Homo sapiens: one gene and its partners. The protein of the gene in region 5 purifies or fractionates together with the protein of the main gene of each other region. This does not show direct contact. Each region holds a gene or a part of one and is shown on either strand. Other genes may lie near its edges.

The links.
Region 1: the proteins of MAU2 (region 5) and ZDBF2 purify together in Homo sapiens (affinity purification with mass spectrometry, with the first as the bait; one large-scale study listed by BioGRID). This does not show direct contact.
Region 2: the proteins of MAU2 (region 5) and RFC2 purify together in Homo sapiens (affinity purification with mass spectrometry, with the first as the bait; one large-scale study listed by BioGRID). This does not show direct contact.
Region 3: the proteins of MAU2 (region 5) and POLDIP3 purify together in Homo sapiens (affinity purification with mass spectrometry, with the first as the bait; one large-scale study listed by BioGRID). This does not show direct contact.
Region 4: the proteins of MAU2 (region 5) and SLAIN2 purify together in Homo sapiens (affinity purification with mass spectrometry, with the first as the bait; one large-scale study listed by BioGRID). This does not show direct contact.
Region 6: the proteins of MAU2 (region 5) and PALLD purify together in Homo sapiens (affinity purification with mass spectrometry, with the first as the bait; one large-scale study listed by BioGRID). This does not show direct contact.
Region 7: the proteins of MAU2 (region 5) and PRR12 purify together in Homo sapiens (affinity purification with mass spectrometry, with the first as the bait; one large-scale study listed by BioGRID). This does not show direct contact.

Annotation. Positions count from the first base shown.
Region 1 is NC_000002.12:206,301,729-206,305,768, reverse strand, and holds part of ZDBF2 (DBF4-type zinc finger-containing protein 2), read right to left. Parts: intron 1,053-4,040; coding exon 1-1,052.
Region 2 is NC_000007.14:74,247,770-74,251,809, forward strand, and holds part of RFC2 (replication factor C subunit 2), read right to left. Parts: intron 2,012-4,040; coding exon 1,970-2,011; intron 1,452-1,969; exon of another isoform or gene 1,350-1,451; coding exon 1,243-1,349; intron 1-1,242.
Region 3 is NC_000022.11:42,608,027-42,612,066, reverse strand, and holds part of POLDIP3 (polymerase delta-interacting protein 3), read left to right. Parts: exon of another isoform or gene 1-154; intron 155-3,104; exon of another isoform or gene 3,105-3,332; intron 3,333-4,040. UniProt on the Homo sapiens protein: Is involved in regulation of translation. Is preferentially associated with CBC-bound spliced mRNA-protein complexes during the pioneer round of mRNA translation. Contributes to enhanced translational efficiency of spliced over nonspliced mRNAs.
Region 4 is NC_000004.12:48,424,028-48,427,154, forward strand, and holds the end of SLAIN2 (SLAIN motif-containing protein 2), read left to right. Parts: 3' UTR 1-2,174; downstream 2,175-3,127.
Region 5 is NC_000019.10:19,347,865-19,351,904, reverse strand, and holds part of MAU2 (MAU2 chromatid cohesion factor homolog), read right to left. Parts: intron 3,017-4,040; coding exon 2,967-3,016; intron 2,751-2,966; coding exon 2,673-2,750; intron 2,581-2,672; coding exon 2,469-2,580; exon of another isoform or gene 2,464-2,468; intron 1-2,463. UniProt on the Homo sapiens protein: Plays an important role in the loading of the cohesin complex on to DNA. Forms a heterodimeric complex (also known as cohesin loading complex) with NIPBL/SCC2 which mediates the loading of the cohesin complex onto chromatin.
Region 6 is NC_000004.12:168,506,818-168,510,857, reverse strand, and holds part of PALLD (palladin), read right to left. Parts: intron 3,499-4,040; exon of another isoform or gene 3,282-3,498; coding exon of another isoform or gene 3,160-3,281; intron 1-3,159. UniProt on the Homo sapiens protein: Cytoskeletal protein required for organization of normal actin cytoskeleton. Roles in establishing cell morphology, motility, cell adhesion and cell-extracellular matrix interactions in a variety of cell types.
Region 7 is NC_000019.10:49,589,765-49,594,521, reverse strand, and holds the start of PRR12 (proline-rich protein 12), read right to left. Parts: upstream 3,341-4,757; 5' UTR 2,868-3,340; coding exon 2,782-2,867; intron 1,196-2,781; coding exon 1,083-1,195; intron 69-1,082; coding exon 1-68. Other genes in the region: PRRG2 (transmembrane gamma-carboxyglutamic acid protein 2 isoform 1 precursor), read right to left, coding at 4,133-4,151, 4,470-4,622.

The DNA of each region.
Region 1 (4,040 bases), on a different chromosome or scaffold from region 5:
AAGAGGAACTGCAATCAAAACTCATTTCTGAACCTCTAGACTCATAGTTATCTTCTTGGTCAATTTGCTCCTCCTTCCAAAGACTTAAGTCTTGTGCAGTCTCTTGGGGCTGATCAGATGCTGACTGAAGAGAGATACAATCAAACTTCATTTCAGAACTCACTGAGCACTTCTGTTCCCAAAAGGCTGTCTTGTTAAAAACCAAATGCTTTTCTTCTTGGGTACAATCCATGTTAGAAAAGAATTCCTCATGGTTCTTTGCAATAGTATCTTCAAAGATTCCTTTATTAGAAGGCATGTCAGTTTTATTCGGGTTTACTGCTAATTTGGAAGGAGATTTAACTCTTAAGGAGCCCTTAGTACCCATGCGTTCATGGAATTTCAAGCCAGCTGATAAAGTTTTACCCTGAGATTTTACATCTTTCCACAAAACCAACTTATCTGAATTCATGCGTAAAGATTTCCTATTTGATTCTTTATGTTTCTGATACGAAAATGAAGTAGTTTCTACATGGGATGATGGCACAGGATTTCTAGAGGCCCCATCTGGCTGTTCAAGATATTTCTCAACTTTGTTTGGGTCACATTTGCTAACTGAATCCAAATGAGCTGCTGGTGGTAAACTAGTTGTATTAGCTGTAACTGGTCTATCGTTAGAGCTTTCAGGTAAACAACTAGCAGGAGCATTACAAATCACTGGGGGGCGTACCAAGTTGCTTCTATTATTTGTAGCCTGACCAATATCTACTAGGTTACATTTTCTCACACTGGCCCCAATTTTATGAACAAACTCCAAGGGCTGCTGCTGTCCCTTCTCCAGTTTTTGAATAACTGATGGTCGAACTGAAACCTCCTGCGTGCCTTCCTGAGATTTATGAGGTCTGGAATGTAACTCTTCAATAGGTTCTGAAACCTCGGATGGTCTCTCTTCGGTAGCATCCTCATCCTCAACCTTATCCTCATCCTCTTCCTCTTCTTCAGAAAAAGCATCATCCAAATGCACCACTTCAGACGATGACCCAGTATTCACATGTGTCTCATCTTGTGTTGAACTAAAACGAAAGGGGGGAAACTCATAAACATATTCTAATGTCTGTTTAAAATATTAAAATAGAGGCATAATAAATGTTATTTGCTTTCTGTTCTGGACTATCCTTAAAGGACAAGGAATCCAGGCAGTCACCCCAGGCTGAACACTGCATGGACCACAGAGGGGGAATTACTGCAGAAGGTGGAGGTGGCTCCACCAATTGCTACTTAAATACAAATGGCCCCTAAACATGAAAAACTAAACAAATAAAATCATATATTATTTTTCAGTTATCAGAGTAGTAAATAGCAAAAAGTTTGACATATGTTACTTAACTTTGTATGCTTCAGTTTCTGCCTCCAAAAAAAGGGAATCTTACACTATTTTCCCTCATGAGATTGTTTTGATGAGTAAATTAATTGTTACATGTAAAGAGCATTAAAACAAAGAAACAGCTTGGCACACAGTAAGCATTCACAAATGTTAGCTATTATTATCTTAACACATTGTTTTGGTGCGGGTGTAAGGACAAAGGCACTTTAATACATTGTTCATAGGAATATAGATCAGTTAACAGTTACTGGTTAACCTCTATGTAGATTTGTAACCTCTACAAACAGCAATTTGGCAATGTCTATTAAAATTAAGAATGTACATACCCTTTGACCTCTAATTCCACTTTTGGTTTTCTCATGTGTTTAATGAACACGTACAAGAATAGTTACTGCTACTTTTGAGCGGAGGGAGGGGTAATAGCAAATGACTAGAATCAACCTGAATACTCAGTAACTGGGTACTGGTTAAATAATTAATGGTATTTAATGGAATACAATGTGGTTTTTAAAAATAATAAAGCGGCTCTATATATACAAATAAAAACCAATTACTATAAACATTGTTAGTGAAAAGCAAGGGTACACAGAAAGCTACCATTTATGTAAAATAGAAGGGAAAAAAATAATGCACTTAGAATATCTGGAGAATGGCACATACAACTGTAGAAGTCTAGAGGTGTCAAGTGTTACCTCTAGGGAAGTGACTACAGGATGGCAGCAATTTAAGAAGACTTACTTTTGAACGTGCACTGTGAATTATGTCTATGTATATGTATTTCCCATTCAAAATTTAAATTCCATTATTTTTAAAAAGACCCAAAACTTTCATATCTAAAATCAGTCTATGAATCTCTTCTACCAGTATCAAGACAACATGTTTGACCAAAGCATTTCAGGGACTGTTCTTTCATGTACATAAAACCAACTGACCTAATGATATTGCCATGGCCTGAATTCTTAAAGTCGGGCAAACATTCATTCATGTAACAACCATCTACTAAGGACTTACTACTGCATTACAGGCACTATGCTAGGTACTAAGGCAAATTCAAAAAAAGTTAAGCTGCCTTTTAAAGACCATTCAAGTAGCTGCAGAAGGCAGACACATAAAAAATAATAACAATTCAAAGAGATAAGTATCATCACATCTAGACCTGTTTAAAAAAAAAAAAAAAAAGATTAAACTGTCACAGCCAAGAGGGACCTAAAGAGACATTACAAGTTAATGTAATGTGGTATCCTGGATGTGATTCTGAAACAGAAAAAGTAGTAAAACTAAGGAAATCTTAGTTTAAGAAAACTTAGTTTAAGTAGAAACTAAGAAGTCTGAATAAACCATGGACTGTACTAATATCAGTTCATTACTTATAACAAATATATCACATTAATGTTAATAATAGAGAAATTGTGTGAGAGAGTATTATAGGCACACTCTGTACTATTTCCTCATTGTTTCCATTAATCTAAAACTGTTTGTTTATAAAAATAGCCTATAACAATTAAAAATAAACACCTAAAAATTTATTGAATTTTTCCAATTTGAGATGTCATTTGTCTAAGAGAACATGCATACATGTGTCAGCCATATGCAATTTCATTTTAGCCTAAGTATTACTATCCCATATAAATTTATTACCTTAATATTAATTTTGAATTTAGAAAATAAAGTTAACCCTGCATCAAAAGTATTGTGATGCAGCAAAAAACAATTCTAATTTTTCATACTTCTCAACAATGACACTGCAGTGCAACAATCACTTCACTCTAGTTTTTCAGAACCCTAAACTATCTTCATTTGTCTTAAGGACTATCACAACATTCTCAAAATAAAACCAATTGTGCAATATGTAGCTAAGAAAAGAAAGAAAAGGGAAAAAAGAAAAGAAGGTATAATCATAAAATCATACAGCTGGTAAAATCCCAAGAAGGTCATGAACTGCCATCTGGATGCTTTGATCTGCATCTGTATTTGTGTGTGTATAATATGCTTAACAATTAAATCATAATCCACATTTAACTCATCATTTGTAACCACACAACAACAAAAAAAGCTCTCTAAAAATCTAACCATTAAAGATTAAAAACCACTCTTTTGGCCAGGTGTGGTGGTTCATGCCTGTAATCCCCCCACTTTGGAAGACTCAAGTGAGAGGATCACTTGAGGCCAAGAGTTTGAGACCAGCCTTGGCAACATAATGAGATCCTGTTTCTACAAAAAATTTAAAAAATAAGCCAGGCATGGTGGTACATGTCTATAGTCCCAGATACTCAAGAGGCTGAAGCAGGAGGATCACTTGAGCCCAGGACTTTGAGACTACAGTGAGCTATAATCACACCCTGCACTCCAGCCTGGGCCACAGAGTGAGACCTACAAACGAACAAAAAACAGCTAAACTCTTGAGCTAAAAAGAAAAACTCTTGAGCTAAAAAAAAAAAACATTTTTTAAATTATCTAAAAGAAATAAAAACTATGAGATATGGCCAAAATAAAAACATCATATTTTTAAATACTTCCATTAAGAAAAGAATTCATAAATACAACTGGGCACCCAATTTAAGACGAAAAAGATAACAACCAAATTGCCCCCATAAAAAGGTAGACGAAATACATGAAGAAAAGGAAAAAATTAATGAAGATGAAACAAAAATAAAGCAAGAACTGATTTTCAGGAGAG
Region 2 (4,040 bases), on a different chromosome or scaffold from region 5:
ATGCCAATATCCTCCAGACATTTTCCCTAACTGAAGAATCAAGGAGTGAACAATATGCAGCTGTCCCTTGGTGTTCCTGGGGACTGGTGCTAGGCCCTTCCTCAGACACCAAAATTCACTTTTGCTCAAGTCCCTTATATGAAATGGTATAGTATTTGCATATTAACTTATACACATCCTCCAGAACACTTTATTTTTACTTTTATACAGAGATGGGGTTTCATTATGTCACCTAGGCTGGTCTCAAACTCCTGGACTCAAGCGATCCACCTGCCTCAGCCTCCCAAAGTGCTGGGATTATAGGCATGAACCACCATGCCTGGCCGGCCTTCCATACACTTTAAATATACAGGCTGAGTATCCCTTATCCCTAATGCTTGGGACCAGAAATATTTCAGATCTGGGTTTTTTTTTCACATTTTGGAATTTTGCATTATATTTACTGGTTGAACATCCCAGTGTAGTGGCTCACGTCTGTAATCCAAGCACTTTGGGAGGCTGATGCAAGGAGGATCGCTTGAGTCCCGGAGTTCGAGACCAGACTGGGCAACATAGTGAGATCCCGTCTCCACAAGAAAAAGCTGGCATGGTGGCATGTGTCTATAGTCCTAGCAACTTAGCAGGCCAAGGCAGGAGGATTGCTTGAGGCTAAGGGTTTGAGATCAGCCTGGGCAACATAGTGAGATCCCATCTCTACAAAAATTTTTAAACTTGAAAAAAGAGAAAAACTAGTTGGTTTTTTTTTTTTGGAGATGGAGTTTTGCTCGTCACCCAGGCTGGAGTGCTCAACGGTGCGATCTCAGCTCACTGTAACCTCCTTCTCCTGGGTTCAAGCAATCCTCCTGCCTCAACCTCCTGAGTAGCTGGGATTACAGGCACCCAGCACCACGCCCAGCTAAGTTTTGTATTTTTAGTGGAGACGGGGTTTCACCATGTTGGCTAGGATGGTCTCGAATTCCTGACCTCAGGTGATCTACCTGCCTCGGCCTCCCAAAGTGCTGGAATTACAGGTGTGAGCCACCATGCCTGGCTGAGAAGAACAGTTTTTGAAAATTTCCATGAAAACAAAAAAAATAAACCGGCAAGTTGACAAGTGAGCAACGCTCTTTCACTGGGAAGGGGTGGAGGAAATCACATAGCTGGCAAGGCTTCGCATACAACCCAATGCTGAGAAAGGTTGTTTCTGTAACAATTCTCAATGCAGAGCACCCGCCCCCCTACAGGTCTGACTCTAAGACCTACCTGTCATTTGAAGCATTGAGTTCCAACATGGCATCTTTGAGTGCTGGGCCCAGCAGGGCCCGGGCCAAGCACAGAATGCTTGTGGTCTTGCCGGTTCCTGGAGGGCCCTGGGAATGAGATCTCCAGTAAAGACTTCAAACCACCAGAAGGACCTCAGGTAGCTCTTGAGTTATGTTCACTGCTGTTTGCATCTCCGTCACCTCTGACCCCTGCATTCCACCCACAGCACACACAGATCAATACAGCTGGCCGGAGACAGTGGCTCACACCTATAATCCCAGCACTTTGGGAGGCCAAGGCGGGCAGATCACCTGAGGTCAGGAGTTCAAGACCAGACTGGCCAACATGGCGAAACCCCGTCTCTACTAAAAATACAAAACTTAGCTGGGCGTGATGGCAGGCACCTGTAATCCCAGCTAGTCGGGAGGCTGAGGTACAAGAATCGCTTGAACCTGGGAGGGAGAGGTTGCGGTGAGCAGAGATTGCACCACTGCACTCTAGCCTGGGTGACAGAGTGAGACTCCGTTTCAGAAAAAAAAATAAATAAATAAATAAAAAAAAATACAGCAACCAACCCCAGGCCTCCCAACTAGAGTGAAACACTTCCCTTTGCCGGGGGAATGGGAAGGGGCTCTCCAGGGAGGCAGCGCTGTGCACAAGAAAGCAGTTCAGCGGACAGTGGGATGAGACATGGAGACACTCAACAGGCCCAGGGCTGGGTACTCACCGCAATGATGATGTTGGGCACATTTCCTTCCCTTGCAAAGACCTACGGCGAAAATGATCATTAAAACCGGTTAAAACTTGCTTCTGGATGACTACATAAAAAAGATAGAAAAAAGAACAAACAAGCAGGTTAAAACTCGGCTGAGCACAATGGCTCAGGCCTGTAATCCTAGCAGTTTGGGAGGCCAAGGCAGGACAATCACTTGAGGCCTGAGGCCAGCCTGGGCAACACAGTGAGACTCTGTCTCCTCAAAAAATAAACAAAATTAGCCAGGTGTGGTGGTGTGCTCCTGTACTCCCAGCTACTCGGGAGGCTAAAATGGGAGGATCGGTTGAGCCTGAGAAGTGGAGGCCGCAGTGAGCTGTGACTGCACCACTGCACTCCAGCCTGGGAAAGAGTGGGACCCTGTCTCAAAAACAAAAAAAAAAAAACACAAAACCTGGTTAATTTGTAAGCTTTAGGAGCTGAATCTCCCCAGCTACACAGCCTGTGTAGTAAACGTGGCTACAAATTTATCCACATGGACTGGATGCCCCATGGAACTCTCACCTCAAGTTCTTTTTATTCTTTTAGAGATGCACTCTGGCTGTCACCCAGGCTGGAGTGCAGTGGTGTGATCAAGGCTCACCGCAGCCTCCAATTCCCAGGCTCAAGTGATCCTCCTGCTTTGGCCTCCCGAGTAGCTGGGACTACAGGTACTCACCTCGGCATCTTCAAAACTGAACACTTCATTCTCCTGTACAAACCTGAGGCCCCACCCATGTTTCCCACCATGGACTGTCTATGCCATGAAGTTGAGGTTGCCATCATCTTGGTTTGGCCTCATCCTCACCCTGAGTACTTCAATAACCAGGGCTTCACCATCCTCCTCCTTCGTCTCCAGCGTCCTTTACTTCTCTCCATCCCTTCTCTCCATCCCGGCTACCACTTTCTTAAGCCCATTATCTCGTCTGATTGCTATCAATGGGCCATTAAGTGGTCTCCATGCTCCCATTCAAATCCATTTCCCATCCTGTAACCACGACCACTTTCCTAAAGTACACACCTATTAAAACATTTTTTTTTTTGAGATGGAGCTTTGCTCTTGTTGCCCAGGCTGGAGTACAATGGCACAATCTCGGCTCACTGCAACCTCCGCCTCCCGGGTTCAAGCGATTCTCCTGCCTCAGCCTCCTGAGTAGCTGGGATTACAGACGCCCACCACCATGCCTGCCTAATTTTTATTTTTAGTAGAGACGGGGTTTTGCCATGTTGGCCAGGCTGGTCGTGAACTCCTGACCTTAGGTGATCCACTCGCCTTGGCCTCCCAAAGTGCTGGGATTACAGGTGTGAGCCACCACACCCGGCCCTATTAAAACATTTTTCCCTAACTGAAATCCTTGACTCCTCCCTGCCCTCACTATGAAGCCCAAACTCTTTTTGTTTCTCAAAGTAAGGGTGTCCACTCTGTCACCTAGGCTAGAGTGCAGTGGCGTGATCATAGCTCACTGCAGCGTCAAACTCCTGGGCTCAAGGGATCCTCCTGCCTTGGCCTCGAGTAGCTGGGATTACAGGCACTTGTCACCATGCCCAGTTTGAACCTCAGACTCTACAGGCATGTGCCACCACACCCAGCTCATTCTTAAATTTTTTCGTAGAGACTGGTTTCACCACATTGCCCAGGCTGATCTCAAACACCTGGCCTCAAGTAATCTGCCCGCCTTAGCCTCCCAAGGTGCTGGGATTACAGGTGTAAGCCACTGTGCCCAGCCTTAGGTCATCTTTTAAAAACCTACTCAAGGCCGCTCGTGGTGGCTCACGCCTGTAATCCCAGCACTTTGGGAGGCCGAGGCAGGCGGATCACGAGGTCAGGAGTTCAAGACCAGCCTGGCCAACACGGTGAAACCCCATCTCTACTAAAAATAAAAAAATTAGCCAGGCGTGGTGGCGTGTGCCTGTAGTCCCAGCTACTGGGGAGGCTGAGGCAGAAGAATTGCTTAAACCCAGGAGGCGGAGCTTGCAGTGAGCTGAGATGGCGCCACTGCACTCCAGCCTGGGCGACAGAGCGAGACTCCATCTCAAAAAAAAAAAA
Region 3 (4,040 bases), on a different chromosome or scaffold from region 5:
ACCTGGAGTGCATGCTGAGTTTGAGTTAAATCTTCTGGAAACTCCGTTTTTATCTCACCTGCACAGCCAACAAAGAAAAACTAGATCCAGTGGTCCCTGTTAAGATAATGTGAAAGATCTGAACAAATTCAATGAACAGATGTCATTTCCTGCAGTAAGTTTATTTTTATTTTATTTCTTTATTTTTTTTGAGATGGAGTCTCACTCTGTTGCCCAGGCTGGAGTGCAATGGCATGATCTCAGCTCAGTGCAACCTCTGGCTTCCAGGTTCAAGCGATTCTCCTGCCTCAGCCTCCCAAGTAGCTGGGACCATAGGCATGCGCCACCACGCCTGGTTAATTTTTTTGTATTTTTAGTAGAGGTGGGGTTTCACCATGTTGGTCAGGCTGGTCTTGAATTCCTGACCTCAAACGATCCACCCGTCTCAGCCTCCCAAAGTGCCACCGTGCCTGGCCATACATGCTATTTTACATACTGCCTAGAAGAATCTGCGTACTTGGAACTTTGGTTTTAATGTTGCATGGATATTCCAGGAAGAATTTTGTTGTTTAAGAAAGCTTTTTTCCTCTTAGTAGAAATAGCCAAAGATCCAGCTTGTGGAAGTGTAAATAACCTCTTTCCCCACCACTCTGCTCACTTTGTTTCCTGTGATCCCAAGGATCACATTTGTGGAATGTGCTTGTTCTCAAAAGCAGCCATTCTGTTTTGTGTTCCTCACACCTTGTGAGTCAAGAAAAGGGTCATAGCTGGATGCAGTGGTTGCTCATGCCTGTAACTGCAGCTGTGTGGGAGGCTAAGGCAGGAGGATTGCCTGAGTTCAAGGCTGCAGTGAGCCATGCTTGCACCACTGCACCCCAGTCTGGTTGACGGAGCAAGACCTCATCTCTTTAAAAAAGAAAGAAAAAAGTCATTACCATTATTATTACCTAGGCCTCCAATTAATTATTAAAAGATTCCTTGACTAATGGGAAATGATTGAACCAGAAGAGGGTGGTTTTGAGTGATACCTTCCTCCATGGTGAGGTGCTATCTTTCCTCACCACAGCACATCTCCAGTGACTTTAGTTGTGAAAGATCCGTAGAGAGTCTCCTCAGGATAGCATTAGGTACCAGTTGCAGTGCTGGCCTGCCCCTCATGTTGGTTTTTTCCTTTATTTATTTGAGACAGGATCTTGCTCTGTCATCCAGGCTGGAGTGCAGTGGCAAGATCACAGCTCACTCCAACCTCTGCCTCCTGGGCTTAAGCAGTCTTCCTGCCTCAGCCTACCAGGTAGCTGGGACCACAGGCATATGCCATCATGCCTGGCTAATTATTTTTGTATTTTCTGTAGAGACAAGGTCTCGCCATGTTGCCCAGGCTGGTTTCGAACTCCTGGACTCAAGCAGTCCTCCTGCCTCTGCCTCACAAAGTGCTGGGGTTACAGGTGTGAGCCACTGTGCCCAGCAGTTTCTTCCTTTAGATATGAGGGCATCCCCAGTTAAGTCAGTTGACATGTCCGCTTTTGTTAGTTCGATGAGTTTAACCCTCAGCGGATAGCTTTCTGTCAGCTGCCTCCAAGCAGTTCAGTGTGGCAGCCTTGAATGTGCTGGAGGCTGGAGTTGAGCAGCTCTCTGGGCCAGACGCCTCATCTGGGGAGTCCTTGGAGCTGGAAGTGGGAGGTTGTTGGGGGACAGGGTGGATTGTAAACTTTGCAGTTCAGCCCAGGACTCTGGTCCTGGTACTGACTGCTTGTTTCCTTGTTGAAATAAGATAAAGGAAATAAAGACCTAAACACAAAAGGGAGGAAATGAGTTATTACATAACTCTAGGGAACGAATTATGTTTTAAAATGAAACATCTGCACAAGACTCTTGGGTAAGGGGATAGTATTTTATTTTATTTATTTATTTTTGAGACAGAGTTTTGCTCTTGCTGCCCAGGCTGGAGTGCAATGGCGCGATCTCAGCTCACCGAAACCTCCACCTCCTGGATTCAAACGATTCTCCTGCCTCAGCCTCCTGAGTAGCTGGGACTACAGGCATGGGCCACTACGCCCGGCTAATTTTTTGTATTTTTAGTAGAGACAGGGTTTCACCATGTTGGCCAGGCTGGTCTCAAACTCCTGACCTCAAGTGATCCGCCCATCTCAGCCTCCCAAAGTGCTTGGGATTACAGGCGTGAGCCACCTCGCCCAGCAGGGGATAGTATTTTAGTGTCTTGTTTTTCTTTGTGTCTCTTAAACACCTAATTCAGAGTTGACCCTCAGTCATAGTTAGAATTAAGCTGTTTTCTCTCTATAAAAATGACCTAAACACACACCTAAACGAACACCCCCTAACCCAGAAGCTTTTTTTGTTTGTTTTTATAAGACGGAATCTTGCTCTGTCACCCAGGCTGGAGTGCAGTGGTGCGATCTTGGCTCATGGCAACCTCTGCCTCCCATAACCCAGAGGATTTTAAACCCATGGGTTAAAATCTGCTTTATAATAATCCAGGGCCCCACTTCATGGGCCTGAATCTTTTGGACTGGACATCTGTCCAGAATGGGCTGTAGCCCTGCCCTCCCCAGACAGAGCCAGGAGGGTGAAATATTCCTATAGCCCAGACAGACCCTCCCTGGTCATCACACCTATGCCAGGTTCCCGTAGGGGGTATAGAGGAGAGAATTTGGGGTCCAGGGAACGTTTGCCTTCTCACCTGCCAGCAGCGCTCTTGCCAGGACCTCGCGGAATACCTGGTGAAGCCCTGGAAGCAGTTGCAGAGCTGTAGTTTCGGTGCGATGGAGGTGGGGCATTACGAGACTCAGTCAAAACCTTCCTCCTTCGCCCTCCCAAACATTTACTGAGGATAAAAGTGCAGGATGTGTTTTGGGAACGTCAGTAGTCACTGCAGTGGGGAGTAAGGCTGCAGCCATAAGCTGGAGCCAGAGCCGAGGCCCCCCCAGGGGTTGGGCTTTGTAAAGGAGCCCCCAGCAGTTCTAGAAGCGGGAGGGTAACATAATTGAGTCTGTGTTTTAGAGACCTACCCCTGGCAGGAGTGTTGATTTGAAAAATTTCCGATGACTAATGCCTGCCTGAAACCAGTACTGCTGCCTGCTGGGATGAATAGCTGTCTTTTCATGCAGGAAGAGCAGCTGTGATTATAAAAAGCCTGAACACTGAAGCCCCCTCAAGCTGTTCACGAAAGAAGTTGAAAGCACTGGTGGAACCAGGGAACTGAGTGCATCAGATTGAGGGAAATAGCTTACTCCCTCCCACCGTGAGGAGCTCCTACTACATCCTCAACTACCGTTAACTCCCACCCCTAAATGTGCCTTTTAGGCTGTTCAAATAGATAAAAATGCCAGCACAAAGCATCTTGGTGGTCCTTCCTGCCAGGCAGGCATTGTGGTATGCGAGTTCTCAGTGCGTGCACCACCCGCTCGCCTCGCTGCTTGTGCTCACCCTTTGGTCGCTAGAGAGTGCTCCGTATCCCTGGGCATGACCGGAGTCCTAAGATTTCTTCAGCCTGCGGACTGTTTATCCTTCCTTTATATATATGTATAAATTTTTAAGGGTTTAACAACATATTGAAACTGAAATACCAGACAATAATGATAAGGAAGATTGTTTCTTTTTGTTTTGGTGGTGGTGGTTTTTTTTTGTTTTGTTTTGTTTTGATTTTTGAGACAGGGTCTTGTTCTGTCTCCCAGGCTGGAGTCCAGTGGTGTGATCTTGGCTCACTGCAGCCTGGACCTCCTGGGCTTAGTTGATCCTCCTGCCTTGGCCTTCTGAGTAGCTGGGACTACAGATGTGCATCATCACTTGCAGCTAATTTTTTTTTGGGGGGGGGGGTAAGGTTATAGATTAACAGCATCCCAAGGCAGAAGAATTTTTCTTAGTACAGAACAAAATGAAGTCTCCCACGTCTACTTCTTTCTACACAGACACAGTAACAATCTGATCTCTCTTTTCCCCACATTTCCCCCTTTTCTATTCGACAAAACCGCCATCGTCTTCATGGCCCGTTCTCAATGAGCTGTTGGGTACACCTCCCAGACGGGGTGGCGGCCGGGCAGAGG
Region 4 (3,127 bases), on a different chromosome or scaffold from region 5:
GAATTTTACCTATTATGAAACATATTACATTTTTTAAGTTAGATAATCAGTTTCAAAAGGAGTATTCAGGTTATTTAACTTTGTTTTTAAATGGCTGCATCAGAAAAAAATGTCTATTTTTTTTTATTAAAATATTTCATCACTTGTTAAAACATATTTTTGATCTGAGTTTGGTAAAGTATTATTTTACCTGCTGTTGTACTACCACAGACTGTTGACTTTTAGTTTCTTAAAGAGAAAAATTGCCTTTTTACTAGAAAGCCTTTGTATATTGCAATTTTTCTGTTTGGGAAAATCTAAGGATTTACTGTGGTTAGTCTTACAGAAGAAATGTGGATTTGATAAACTAGTGCCTATGATTTTAACTTATGTTTGATATATAGTAGTAAGGGTTTTATGAATGTTGATTATTTTGTGCCAACAGCCCAGAATTGTCACTTATATGTAAGCAGAAAACAATGAGCTCTGCTTCCAAAGTTATTTAATTTTCTCAGTGTTTGAATGTTATTTTTTGTAAGTGTGTTAATAAAAGTGTAAAGAATTGGAAAAAATATAAATATTCTTAACTCAAGCATTTGCTGGATCATTTTTCTACAAAACTTGTTTGTACAATATAAAACACTCTCTGAAGAGTTGACTTTTTTTCAGTTTCGTATCCTGGAAATCACATTTTGTAAAACTGGGGACCATTCATAATTGTCAGATACTTTTTAAAATTATCTCAATACATCACTTTTATAAAAAAAAAAAGTTTTTTTGAAAGAAAATTAGATACATATGTGGCCCCAGATGTTTGTATAACTCTAGAATGATCTAGACTATGTATGTTTAAATTAACTTTTTATTGAATGTACAGGTGTCCATTTTTGACGTTAAGCATGGTCCTTTAAGGTCACATGACGTTTGATTTGCAAACATTTCTATAGCCGAACTTGTATATGTGGTTGCCTCCTTAATAAACAGCCTGACCATAATGTTTATTATTAAATTTATATTCTTTAAGTGTTTAATTAATCTCTGGATATGGTAAGATTCCTTTTTTCCTCTCAGTTGCCTACACTTGGTTTTAATAAATTACTCAGTTGAGTTTTTCTTTAACCACAGAAACCCAAATCATATTGCCCTTTCAGATTTAGTCTTCATGGGGTTGGATTATGTCTTATATTTTCTCTGTCAGAGTTATTTCATATATGGATTTTACTTGAAGGAAATTTACAGTTTACTCTAAATTGATTTGTTCTTGGAACTTTTTTACCTGCTGTGAATTGATACCTAGTTATAAAAAGCTAGCATTTGCCTAGATCATAACTATGTATGGTATCTAGTTAGAAAAAAACAAGCAAAAAGCTATTATGAGTTTCCAAGAGGGACAATTAATGCATTTTCATACCAAATGCGAATATTTAGGTGATCACGTGCATCTTTTCTTGTATGGATGGAAAAATCAAGAATTGTACACTGTTTAATGAGTTCTCCATATTCCTTTAGGAGATATTTGCTTTGCAATTACATGTTACAATTAGAATAATTACAATTAAAATAATATTACATGTTACAATTAGATTAATAGTGATGAGAGGGAAAAAAGACACCCTTCTGTTTTTTTCTCTCAAGCCAGTCTAAAAACTTGAAGAGCCATTTAAAATTAAATGTCACTATACTTGTATTATAAATCAATACATAAGTTTAAACCTGTTATATACTCAGTGCAACAGAAAAACCCATATGGAGGTTCAACCACTGATGTATTTTGAATGATCCTAAATATAAGTCTTGGGTGGCTAAATGGCCCTCTGCTTACCAGTCTGAAAATGAAACCGATTATACTCATCGGCCTTATTTACTGTAATACAAACTGGTTAAAACTATGTTAACTGAATGCTAGTTTGAAACAAATTATCTACATTAAGTCATCTTAATGTTTTCTCTTTAAAAGAAATAAAAAAATCTGTTTCTTCTGATTTCGAAAGTAATAGAAACTCTGCTGTAGAACATAAACTAAAAATATTAAAAAGTATAAAGGTAAAAAATGATAGTTGTCTGCAATCCCATAATCCGGAAATATTGAAGTACTGTCCGTAACATGGTTATGACATGTTAAGTGGAAGGGTAGAAGGTCTTTTTTTTTTTAAGGAGAAAATGTTTCTTTTAAATAAATGTTTCTTATGTAAAAATGTTGACATGAGTTTGCTTTTGCACAGAAGTATACATTAACTGCTATTGAAAGCTTGGCATATATCTTAATTCCTGATTTTAGATATTTCTTGATAAAACTATCGTATGTATTGTTTGTATTGTTTATAACATTAATTGGTTTTTTACAATTTATACTTTTTTTTTTTTTTTAAACAGTCTTGCTCTGTTGCTCAAGCTGGTGGAGTGCAGTGGCATGATCTCGGCTCACTGCAACCTCTGCCTCCCAGGTTCAAGCAATTTCCCTGTCTCAGCCTCCCAAGTTGCTGGGACTACAGGCACATGCCACCATGCCCAGCTAATTTTTGTATTTTTAGTAGAGACCGGGTTTCACCATGTTTGTCAGGCTGGTCTCAAACTCCTGACTTCATGTGATCCACCCACTGTTGTACCTGCTGTTGTATTTTTTACCTGCTGTTGTACTACCATAGACTATTGACTTTTAGTTTCCTAAAGAGAAAAACTTTCTTTTTTTTTTTATGAGATGGGGTCTCACTATTTTGCCCAGGATGGTCTCGAACTCCTGGGCTCATGCGATTCTCCCGCCTCAGCCTCCCAAAGTGCTGGGATTACAGACATGAGCCACCACGCCTAGCCTCTATACATATTGAAATTTGAGAAATATATAATAAATTATAAAGAAGAAAAAGTACCTAATTCAATAGGTAGTCAGCCACTTAAATTTGAAGATAATGTCTTTGTTTCTTTTTCCTTCTAAAATTGTAATCATATGCTTGACAGTAACTTTTTCTGAAGTCTGAATTCATGACTACCATGATGTAGATGGATTCTGCTGCTACAAAAAAAAGCCATTTAGTTCTGGAAAGAGTTTATAAATATTCTAAAACTTTGCCAAACTATATTATTGTAGTCCTTCGTATCGTATCCTTTGTTGATACTTGAATGCCCCCCACCACCACCCCTGCCTCCCATC
Region 5 (4,040 bases):
TACACTCCAGCCTGGGCAAGAGAGCAAGACTTCATCTCAAAAAAAAAAAAAAAAAAAAAAAAAAAAATTACCAAACAGGCTGACAAGCAAAACCTCCACGTGGGAGACGTGGGCAGTGGGAAGGGATGGATGACAGAGACATGCAATTTTTTTCTGTTTTGCTTCTCAGCCTTTTAATTATGAACATGTCATATTTTATAATCTAGAAAAATAACTTTTTTTTTTTGAGACGGATCTCACTGTGTTGTCCAGGCTGGAGTGCAGTAACATGATCACAGCTCACTGCAGCCTCAACCTCCTGGGCTCAAGTGATCCTCCCACCTCAGCCTCCCAATTAGCTGGGACCACAAGCATGAGTCCACACACCCAGCTAATTTTTTTGTTTGGTTTTTGTAGAGATGGGATCTCAGATCTACTATGTTGGTCAGGCTGATATTGAATTCCTGCGCTCAAATGATCCTTCCACCTCTGCCTCCCAAAGTGTTGGGATTACAGGCCTGAGCCACTGTGTCTGGCTGGAAAATATCTTTTTTTTTTTTTTAAGAGATAGCATCTCTAGGGCCAGGCACAGTGGGTCATGCTGTAATCTAGCACTTTGGGAGGCTGAAGTGGGTGGATCGCTTGAGCTCAGGAGTTCAAGACCAGTCTGGGTAACATGGAGACCCAGTCTCTACCAAAAATAAAAAAATTAGCTGAGCATGGTGGCACACACCTGTGGCCCCAGCTACTTGGGAGGCTGAGGTGGGAGGATCACTTGAGCCTACAGGGGGTGAAGGTTACCACGAGCTGAGCTGAGATCATGCCACTGCGCTCCAACTTGGGTGACGGAGTGAGACTCGGCCTCAAAAAATAAAATTAAATTAAAAAAAAAGAGGGTCTCACTAGGTTGCCCAGGCTGGTGGTCTTGAACTCCTGGGATCAAGGGATTCTCCCCCATCCACCTCCCAAAGGGATACAAGCAATGAGCCACTGTGCCTGGCCAAAAATATCTTTTTTTTTTTTTTTGAGATGGAGTCTTGCTGTGTTGCCCAGGCTGGAGTGCAGTGGTGGGATCTCGGCTCACTGCAAGCTCCGCCTTCCTGGTTCATGCCATTCTCCTGCCTCAGCCTCCCAAATAGCTGGGACTACAGGCGCCTGCCACCATGCCCGGCTAATTTTTTGTATTTTTAGTAGAGACGGGGTTTCACCGTGTTAGCCAGGATGGTCTCGATCTCCTGACCTTGTGATCTGCCCGCCTTGGCCTCCCAAAGTGCTGGGATTACAGGCGTGAGCCACCATGCCCGGCCTTTTTTTTTTTGAGATGGAGTCTTGCTCTCACCTAGGCTGGATGGAGTACAATGACACGACCTCGGCTTACTGCAACCTCTCTGCCTCCTGGGTTCAAGCAATTCTCCTGTCTCAGCCTCCAGAATAGCTGGGAGTACAGATGTGTGCCACCACACCTGGCTAATTTTTGTATTTTCAGTAGAGATGAGGTTTCACCATGTTGACCAGGCTGGTCTTGAACTCTTGACCTCAAGTGATCTGCCCACCTCAGCCTCCCAAAGTGCTGGGATTACAGGCATGAGCCACCGTGCCTGTCCCAAAAACATCTTTTTTTTTTTTTTCTGAGACAGAGTCTCACTCTGTTGCCCAGGCTGGAGTGCAGCGGCATGATCTCCGTTCAATGCAACCTCTGCCTCCTGGGTTCAAGTGATTCTCATGCCTCAGCCTCCCGAGTAGCTTGGATTACAGGCGTCCACCACCACGCCCCACTAATTTTTGTATTTTTAGTAAGAGACAGGGTTTCACTATGTTGGCTAGGCTGGTCTTGAACTCCTGACCTCAGGTGATCTGCCCGCCTTGGCCTCCCAAAGTGCTGGGATTACAGGCGTGAGCCATTGTGCCTGCCCAAAATATCTTCTTAAAAAAAAAAAAAAAAAAAAAAAATTCAAGACCTCGTGAGATCAGTGGGTGAGAGTAGGCGAGGAATTGACAGGAAGGACTGAGGCGGCCAGTCCCACCAGAGACTGGCTGACCTTGGGTGGGGACCAATCCCAGGGGCCACTTGTACCCTGAGAGGACACTGTGTTGGCCAAGGATGATATGTTTGGAAGTCCGGCTGAGAGGAGACACCTCTCTGCCCCTCAGGTGTCAACACATAGCATGGGGTGGCTGCGTCATCCCCAGTAGCTCAGGGCAGCTCCTTTGGTTCTGGCTTCAGCTCCCCTGAGCCCTGGGGCTCTGCCTGCCCAATGTCTGAGGCCACACCCATCAGGCCTCCTGCCTTCCCCCCACACCCTCTGTGGGTGCCCAGCTCCTCTGGCCCTGCCTGCCCAGGCTGTGGGAGTCAGGGCATCCACCTAGACGTGCTCTTCGAGGGGCATAGGATGAACAGTGCCATGCCACCCTTAGGGTGCTGGCCGGCTCCTGTCCCTCAGCCAAGCCCCACAGGCACCCAAGCGAGGGGCCCAGGCCAGGGCACTCACCCTGTGGTTTCCCAGCACATAGAAGATGTGGCCCAGAAGCACGAGGGAGCAGGCTGTGAGCCGGTTCAGGTCCTCAGCATTGGACATCTTCAGAGTTTCCCGCAGAAATCGCCTGACAAGGAGAACATGGACGCTGATAACTGCAGGACGGGGCCTGGGCTACCCTGAGCATGGCCCTCACGCCACCCTCTGCCCCACACTTACTTGGCCTCGTTGTAGCGTCCCTGGAAGAAGGAGAAGAGCCCACGCACATAGAAGGCGGCTGCTCGGAGGCAGTGCGAGCTGCAGGGAGAGTGCAGTATCACATGGGGTGGTGATTTTGAGAAGCAGGTTTACAAAACGGCAGTGGGCAGCTGGGGGCTATTTCTGAGAGCCCCCACTGCAGACTGTCTGTGAGGAGGGGTATGGGGTGTCAGGGTGCAAGGGGCAGTCAGGGGCCCCAACCAAAGAGCACGGGGAGCCTAGGCCGTGCGTGGAGTGGTGCCTGGAGCGGCTCACCTGACAGGGAAGCTGTGGTCCGGGTTGATCCTCTCCAGCAGACTGTAGAGCTGCGGGGGAAAGAGCCAGTCAGCACCATTCTGCATCTTCACAGGAGAAAGGTCCCCAAGACACACTGCAGTGCATGGGAATTTCTCTACACCCCCGTCGGGACTGTGGCCTCCAGGCTGAGCCTGGTGACTGACCAGCAAGAGCAGCCTCTGGTGAGAAGGGCCGGGGGCAAGATTTCCACACCCTCAGCCAGCCCTGCCTGTGCCACCCTGTCCTGCAGTAGGTGACAGGGGCCTGGGCGTCCAGAAGGCCTTTGTATGGTCAGAGTGGTGCTGAGGGGCTGGCCTGGCAGTGGGTAGGTTGGCAGGCTGGGGCCCGTGAGCCCTGTGGGCTGTGGGGGTGAGTGGGTGGGATTTCTCTGGAGGTGCAGGGACCCCGGGAGGCTCTGATGGGGGCGTGATCTGACTGATAATTTAGCTGCCCTCTAGCTGCAGAGGCACAGGGGAGCCAAACTCCTCCTCAACACTGCGAGCCCACGTATGGCATCGGATGACTAAGCCGGGGCTGGGCTTTCTTTTTCCTTTGAGACAGGTTCTTGCTCTGTCGCCCAGGCTGGAGTGCAGTGGCTGGATCATGGCTCACTGCAGCCCTCAATCTCCCTAGCTCAAGCAATCCTCCTGCCTCAGTCTCCCGAGTAGTTGGGACCACAGGCCTGCACCCCACCAAGTTTTTAAAAAATTTTTTTGTAGAAATGGGGGTCTCCCTATGTTGCCCAGGCTGGTCTTGAACTCCTGACCTCAAGTGATCCTCCTGCCTTGCTTCCCAAAGTGCTGGGATTACAGGTGTGAGCCAAGCACCTGGCCTGATACACTTTGGAGGTAGACCCCCAGAGGTGAAGGAGATACTAGAACTGAGGGACATCCTAGGGCTGAGGGGGATCCCAGGGCTGAGTGGGCATCCCAGGGCTGAGGAGGGAATCCCAGAGCTGAGGGGGATCCCAGGGCTGAGGAGGGGATCCCGGGGCTGAGGAGGGGATCCCGGGGCTGAGGGGGATCCCAGGGCTGAGTGGGGATCCCAGGGCTA
Region 6 (4,040 bases), on a different chromosome or scaffold from region 5:
CAAACTTTTCTGGAAAGGGCCAGATGGTAGATACTCTTGACTTTGTGAGCTGTTCAGCCTCTATTATAATTACTCAACTCTGCATGAGCATGAAACCAGCCAAAGATGATGGAAATGAATGAGCATGACTGTGTGCCAATAAAACTTTATGGACACTCATATTTGAATTTTATATCATTTTAATGTGTTAAAACTATTATTATTTTGATATTTAATTTTTAAACAATAGTTTTAAAATGAGAAAAACATTCTTAGTTTGCAGGGCATACAAAAAGGGTTGGGATGGATTTGGCTCAGGGGCTGAAATTTGCTGACCCTTCATCCAGACTTACAGCACAGTTATCATGTTCAAGGAGTTAAAAGTCATGGGAGGTAGTAAAGTGGAGGAGATAGAGAAGATATTAAACAAATAATATGTTAATAATATAAAATTTTGATAAGGCTTTTAAGGAAAGTGAGAAAAACCTGGGGGCTATGAGAGTCTAATCTAATCTTAAAGGGCATGAGATAACTAGAGGCCTGGCATAGAACACTTACATGGGAATATCAGCAGAATTAAATAAAAGGTATTTCATTATCTGTAAGCTATTACAGCTTTAAATTCCACTGACATTTTGAACTTTATATTGTGAAGCAATGACTCCTTGTTACTCTAAGTGTGCCATTCTTTTGCTATATATTGTTCATAGAGTACTGAGAGGGACGATCTAGAAAACATCAGCGGTGATGTCTGCCACAAGACTGAGTCTAGGAGTGAATAATGGAAGCTTCCTGGATGTGGTGAACCTCAACTTTCTACCTTGTGTCAGTCAGGAGTAAACTTGGTGGGACATTCCCCAGAAATGGTGTGTCTTCAGAGGACTGAATTGAGTTGCTTGCGTAGAAGTATCTTCCCATCTAAGAAAATCTCTAATTTCAAAATACATTATGCAAGAGTCGAGGGGGTTGTAGAAATCCAGCTCAAGAGCCTACTGCTTCACTGGATGCAGTGAGTCATAGACCTGCTGTTTAACAGAGGGTAGTTAATCAGAGATCCTGAAACTCAATGTTAACATACCCCATCTTCTTAAGTGGAATACTGTACTTTTGTCTTACATGTCTTCTTAGAAAGATAGTTACTTTTTTTGTGCCTGAATTATTAGATTCACCACATGCTAGCCCTACTCTATCTACTGAACCATATTTCGCACTCTTCTTCAAGTAAATCCTTAATCCTTCAGAGGGTGTCATCATTCTCCCTGACTTTACTAACCCAAATATCACTCTAATTCCTTTGTCCAGTCTGTGCTGCAGGATAGAAACATCCTGACTGGTCTCCAGTTATTCAGATATGGCTCGTATATGAGGAACAATTATATTCAGTGTATTTTTAATACTTGAATGTATTTTCTTCATGAGAAACAGGCAGTTAAAGTATGATTTTGAAAAGGCAAAGGTATAGTAATATATAAAAATCAAATAACATGTATTTGAGCTTTTATTTAACAATTGAAAAAATCAGTAATATATTACAATTATTTCAAAGGAGACGCTGAAGATGAGACACATGTAGGCAATCAGGCATGCTGATATGAAGTTGGTAATAGATTTGAAACTGGTTAATATCTATAGAGCAATAAAATACAATGTTTGGAATCATAAGAGTGGAAAACTATAGCATTTCTACTAGAAAAAAAATCATTTGTATATCTATGCACCAGTATAATTTGCATTGTTTTTAGATTTTTCCAACTTACAGAGTTGTAAAATTGTAAAGACAATAAAAGGCATAGACCCCTGTGGAATTAGATGACCCTGGAACGTCCACCAGAGCCAATCCAGCAATGGTACTGGGTGTCTATTGCAAGGACACCCAGTACCATTTTGTATATTGCAAAACGTTTTATAGTTTGTCCTACCAAGGCAGCCTGGTTTCTCTCAGTAATGAGCTCTGAAGTACAATTGGCCCCTCAGTCAGCACACATGGTAGATAACTTTAGGGGAAGCCAGGATCAGGATCAACTCTTACAAGGTGTGGGGAGATGAGCCATTAGGTAACATGGATCCAGAAGAGACATGAAGGTGGAGAGGGGGAGACTCGGGGGCTGAAAGTAGGTTTGTGTACCAAAGGCACAACAGACTATATTTTCATTTATTGCATTTCTTGTAAAATTTATTTTTCTTTGAAAGAAAGCTACTGTGTTTTTTATTTGTTATTTATTTATTTATTATGGCCTGAAAGAAATTCAGTTTTTGTGTTGAAATCAGTGCTAAAGGAGATTGAAAAACATTTTGTGTCAACCAAACCTGTGGTAGATTAAGCTGAAAATCCAAGGAAATAATTGCAACAAAACCTTTGATTCTTGACATGACGAAATTGTGAAGCCTAAGCTGGGATAGATGTACTACATGGACCAGAATTACCCACTCGAAGTGTATTTATGGACTATCTACCACATGCCTGGTAGTGCGCTAGGGACGGGGATATGACCTTGAAAAAGAGAAGGTTTTTGCCCTCATGGAACTTAATACAAATTACAACTAAATAATAAGCTTATATAATTGAGTATGTCTTTTTTTAAATTGTATTTTATTTTTTAAATTGACAAATAATAATTATACATAATTATGGGGTACCTAGTGATGTTTCAATACGTACAATTTATAGTGATCAGATCAGGGCAACTAGCATATTCATCTCTAACATTTATGATTTCTTTGTGTTGGGAACATTCAACATCTTCCTTCTAGCCATTTGAAACTATAGAGTATGTTATTGTTAGCTATAGTCATCCTGCAGTGGTATAGAAAAACAAAGTGCTGTGATAGCACCTAGAAGCAACAGCAAGGTCAGGATCAGGAAACCTTTGTGAAAGAGAGAAAGCTGAAAGAATGATGTGTGAGGGATGAGGAAGAGCGGGGAGGTGAAGAGGATACTGGCAAATATGTATTTTAAGACTTGGATCCCAGAGAGCACATGGCAGACTCAGGTAATTCTACTAAGCATTTCAGCTAAACAGAAATCTATCTGGAGATGGGAAAATAACCAGAGATAAGGCTAGAAAGCAGGAGTTAGGTCAGAGAGGGCCTGGAGCCATGCAGAGAACTTGCATTTTATGTTATGGGTAGTCAGTAGGCAAGGAAGAGTGTTAAGTCCTTGAGAAACATCACCAGACTTACATTTTTGAGAGATAACTGATTGCAGTCTGGATCCGGGACAGAGGTAGGGAAAGAGGAAGACAAGACTGACAGTAGGGCGGTCCGTGAGAAGGCTTGTGCAGTAATCCAGGGGGTGCACACATTTATCATGGTTTCACGTTTGGTGTTGCTGTCATCTGGACGTCTTCATTTTGGAGAATTCCTCATATTCTGAGGCTCAGTGAGAAACTGAACTCACTTGTAATGGGATGTGAAATCTCCAAGTATTTTCTTTCCCAGCCGCTTGGAGACTGGGCACAAGTCTTGGCACTTGGCCTAGACAGCGATTAGATGTGTCCTTCTTGGACTCTGAAGTGAGAGCTGGTGATTCAGGGAAGCAGTGGGTCCAGGGTCCATAAGATAGATGATAGAAAGGAAAGAACTTGGTAATTGATTAAAGGCAGAGGTGATGCAGAGGCAGGGTTACAGGTTTCTCACCTCAACAACCAGATGACTGGTACCATTAACTTACATGCTACAAGTGGAGGAACAAGTTTTTTTATTTTATTTTATTTTATTTTTTAAGCTTGATTTTGATTTGAGCCTTTTGCAGTTGAGGGACCTTTGGTAACTCTGGTGTTGATGTCTAGGAGATTTGAGATGCTGATCTAGAGCCCAGGAGAAGGGAGAACAGAGCTGGATTGGGGATTATTAGCCTATGGGTGGCACTTTAAGACATGGGAATGCATAAGGTCATCGAGGAAAAAAGAAGGAGAAGATAGAATCCTTCGAATAATCACAGGGAAGCAAGAAAAGCTAGATATCGTGGAAGCTGGGAAAGAAAATATCTCAGGAAGCAGTACATGTCCTTTTGATTTTTGATTTTAGCAACTTGGGAATATTTAGCACCATTGCAACAGCAC
Region 7 (4,757 bases), about 30 Mb from region 5:
CATGACGGAGGCGTCGGGCCCTGCTGAGCCCGCGTGGTGGAGGCCAGTGTCGAAGAGTCCAGAGAGGCCTGGCCGGGGACAGGGGTTATAGTCAGCCAGGTGGGGGTGGGTAGGATACAGTCAAGAGAGAAAGGGAAGAGGCCAAAAGCAAGTTGGATCAGGAAAAGGAGGGGATGGGAGAGAAAAGGGCAAATTCAAAAACAAGATGGATAGAACCAAGCTAATGAGACATGAATGAGGGGAGGGAAGGGGGAAAGGTGAGACAGTAAAGCAAGACAAGGGGCAATCCAGTCATAAGGACAGGGGGCCCAGGTAGGAAATGGTAGACAAAAGTGTAGAAAAATCTAGAAGCGAAAGAGCCAGGAGCAAAAGAACAGAGTCCTCAGTAAGGCTGGGAGGGAGACCAAATTTGGATATTTCCAGCAAGGAAGAGGAAAGGATGGGACAATGAAGTCTAAGAAAGACCAGAGAACGTGTCAGAAAGGATTGAGCTAAGTGGGAGGGTTCAGAAAAAAAGATGGGGAGGGAAAAAGGGAAGGAGCCAATCAGGAGGGTCAAGGGTCAAACTGGACAGCATCATGTCATTACCAGTACCCCTAGGAAGAGGGAACCAATCAGAAACCTTGGAGGCAAAGGCAAGGTGGGTAGAATAAGGCAATGGGGCAAAATAAGATAAAACAGGGCGGGCCAGAGAATTAGAGCCAATCAGGAAGAAAGGGAATCAGGAAGAAAGAATTCAGAGTTCCAAAGAGCCAAAAGAATAGGGCAAACCCAGAGGGAAAGAATTGGGGTGGGTTGGGGAGAGGCGGAAAAGCCTGGAAGAGAAGGTGGGATTTGGGGGCTGATGGTAACAGGGCCAATTGGAGCGAAAGGGGAGGGGCGAGGCAGGGGCGGACGAATCCGGCGAGAAATGAAGCAGCGACCAGCAGCCTCAAAGGCAACCAATCAGAGGAGACACAGCAAGGGGCGGGCCACGGCACGGGCCACGGCCAATTAGGAGGGGCGGAACTTTCAACAGCCAATCAGCTGCCTCGGGGGGAGGGGGAGGGCCAGCCCAAAGCGGGGCGGGATGGGGGCCGTACCTGCCGGGTGGTGGTTGGTGGCATAGCTTTGCAGTGGGTGGGGGGCCGCATAGGCCTGGCGGTGTAAGATGTCCGTCTCGGGGTGCGAGGTCCTGGAGCTGCCATAAACCAAGCTGGGGGGAAAGGGGAGACGTCAGGGGGTTCTTCCAAGCTGCCTTCTGAGAAGGAAGCTCAGAAAACCCCCCGGGGAGTTGGGGGGACCCTTCCAGCTGACCGGGGTGGGGGGTGTTAAGCTAAGGAACCGTAGGCCCTAAAGGGGAGAACACAAGGGAATCGGGGTGCTCAACTAAAGAGCCACAGAAATGGCCCCCACTCCAGAGCCCGAATAAAGAGAGCCCGGATAGTCTCACGTTTACAAACAGGCATGCTCAGAGACGAGACTAACACACAGAAGAGGGTCCAAGGCAGAGCAAGCGTCTTGATTTGCAAATGAGAGCCCTCCCCCGTCGACCCCACAAACCCCCCCCAGCCCCCGTTCCGGCGACACAGGCTATGGGGCCAACGCCAGAGGTCCACATGGACGCCTCCTCTTCCGTAGACACACGGGAACACATAGGCCCTGAACTTCATGGGGTGGTGCAGAACAAGTTGGGAGCAGGAGGAAGATCGGTTCCCAAGCGGCAACGGTTTGGGGGGTGGAGAGAAGAGGGAATAAGACCTGGGGAAAGTACCAGGTACAAGTGTGAACAAGAACACCGACCATCCCCGGGGGTTGAGGTTCAAATGCATGGGCCCATGCAATGCCAGGTATGTGTGCAAACGGGTATCCAACTCACCCGTGGGGAAGAAAAGATATAGACGGAGGAATCCCACACGGAAAATCCTGACACACTTGGGGTTATGCCCTGCTGGGAAATCCAGGTGTGTTGGGGGGGAGGTGCTGGGGATAGGTGAAGTGTGAGGGCGCCACACCAATAAGCAACAGGAAAGGGGCAGATTCACAGGTGAACACGCTGCCAGCCACGCACGCACAGGGCCCACGCTCAGACACACAAACACACACCCGGGAAACATCCGACTCTTCCCATGCAACGGCACCAGTCCGTGGCCAGACTCAAGAGGGCAAACGCTCCACTCCTTGCGATCAACTAGGATTCTCTGCCTTTGGGGGTGGGGGCATTAAAGGGGGCGTGTCCCAGACGCCTGACCCCCTCCCTTACACACACACAACCCCAGCTTAGGAAGGGGGCGGGGCCCCGTGCCCACTCTGCGCGCGGAATTCTTGGGGGGGCGCCTAGTGGCGCGGCCTCGCACAGTCCCGGAACAATAGGACCTGAGAGGGGGTTCGCGCCCCCCAGATCTGCGTTCTAATTCTTCTCTTCTTCCCACCTTTGCAAGAGCAGTGCCTGGGGCGCGGGGGGGAGGGGTCACCAAGCCGGGAATCCAAGGATGGGGGGAAGTCCAGGCCTTGCTTCGCCAGTCCCTCCCACCTTCCCAAGGCCTTCCCGTCCGAAATTGTTTTGCACCCCCATTTTCCCGCTGCAATTCTCCCTTTGCATGCCGGAGCTGGCTTTGGCGGAGTTTGCAATTTGCAAACTGGGGCGGCGGCGTTGTTACAAACCGAGGAAGGCCGCTCCCTTGCAAGCCGGAGGGGAGTTTGCGATGCACGCGTCGCCGGGCGGGCCCGGCCCGGCCCGGCCCGGCCCGGCTGGGCTCCCACCCCTTGGCCCCCTTCTCTAGGCCACCCTCAGCTCCTTACCTAGCTTTCGCTGACCTCTCGTAACTCCATCCCGCCCCGGCGCCGAGCGGGTCCCCGAAGCCGGCGCTGGGGTAGTTCCTGTCCATGAATTGGCCGCGGTGGAAATTGGGGGGAGGGGGAGGGAGGGAGGGAGGGAGGGGGCGCGCGCGCGCTCTCCTCCGCCGCCGCTCCCTCCGCTGCTGCTTTTTTTTCCCCCCTTTTCTCTCTCTCTTTTTTTCTTTGCAGCCGCCGAAGGCCCGGGAAGGCCCCGGGCGGGGGAGGGAGGGGGCAGGGGCGGAGGGGCGGGCAAGGGAGGGGGTGCAGTCGCTGAGCCAAGGAAGGGGGAAGGGGGGTTCCCCCTAGAGGAGGGAAGGGGGGAGGAGGGACCCCGCTGTCTCCGCCTTTGCCCCGGCGCTTGCGAGAGAAAAGGGGGGGCGCGCGCTCGGGAGGGGGCGTCCCGGGCGGCCCCGGGGTGGGTGCAGGCGCTGGGTGCTCGCTCTCTCGCCGCCGCCGCCGCCGCCTCCTCCTCCTCTGCGCTCACGGTGCAGCCATCTTTGCACAAGGCGGCTGGGGGAGGGGGGAGGGGAAGGGGGGGCGGGCGGCGGGGTGTCTGGCTGCGCTCCGCTTCCTCCCACAATCCCGTGCAAATGCAAAAAAAAAAAAAAAAAAAGGGAGAGTGAGAGAGAGACTGAGCGCGAGCAGGGCCTGGGGGTGTAGGGCGCGTTTGCACAGAAAACCAGTTCCGATGCGCCCGGGATCGCAGTTCATTTCATTATTATTTTTTGCATTATTTCTGCTTTTTTTGGTCTCCTTTCCGAAGGGTTTTTATTTAGGGGAACAGCTCAACTCCAGCTCCCTGGGTGCAATGCGAGCCTGCCCGCACCGAGCGCGCTTGCAAATATGCCCCCCGCCCTTTCCCTGGGTTACGAAGTGCCCCTGTACCGCACGGGGAGTGCACGAAGACACGCGTGTGCACAGGCGGGGCTCTGCGTGTGCGTACCCTGTGGCACTGGAGGGGGCTGTCAGGTCATATCTGCCCATACACAAGATGGCACAGCCGGGGCTGGGCTCCTGGGTCCGAATTTCCCCGCGCGTCTGCCTACCACGGGGGCGGAACTGACCAGTGCCCTCACGGTCAGGAGAGTGTGGGGGCCCGTGAGGGGCCAGGACACGGGAACACGTTGCCGAAAACATGTGTATATCCATACGCGGCGGAAACGCGTGTGCCAGGGCAGGCCTCGGGCCGGATGACCCCTACTCCCACCATTCCCCACTCCAAGTCCAGCTTCGGCGTCTATGAGGCCTAGCGGCTTCCGGAATCCGGTATGAATCAGGGGCACGGTTCGGAGAGCCGGGTCTCGAAAGCAGCTCTTCAGTGAGGCCTCCTGAGGCTGCAAGAGGAAAGGCACACTAGGGAGTCAAAGATCTGGCTGTTTTTCTCCCCCCTTCAACCAGGACCACTCCGACCGCCCTTGGCGTCTCAGCCAATCCAGGACCCTCTGGGCACAGGCCCCACCCTCCTATACGGCTCCACACATACAACGCTGGGCCACGCCCCTAGACCATTGCATGGGGCCCCGCCCCCGCACTCCAAGCCCCGCCCCAGGTAAGAAGGCCCAAATTCCAAGTCCCGCCCCTGAGCCCAGGTTCCTCCTCCAACGTGCCCACCCCTCTGCGCCCCGCCCCCGGGCAGAAGCCACGCCCCATACCTGGTGTAGGGGGGTGGAGGTGCGTCGTGTACCCCAGAGGCTGCCAGCGCCTGCTCATAGGTGGGGAGGCCTGGGGGTGGGGGTGGGGGTGGAGGCAGGGGCGTCGGTGGGCCCAGAGGGTTCAAAGGACTCAGAGGGCTAATGAGCCCGGCCCTGGGGACAGCAAAGGTACAGTTAGCAGAGGCAACTTACAGGATACCTAGACTAGGGAGGAAGAGAGGGGATCTAGGAGACGGAGACTCAGGGTGACACTGGGACAGAGCTGGAAGGGAGGTGGACTTCAGAAAA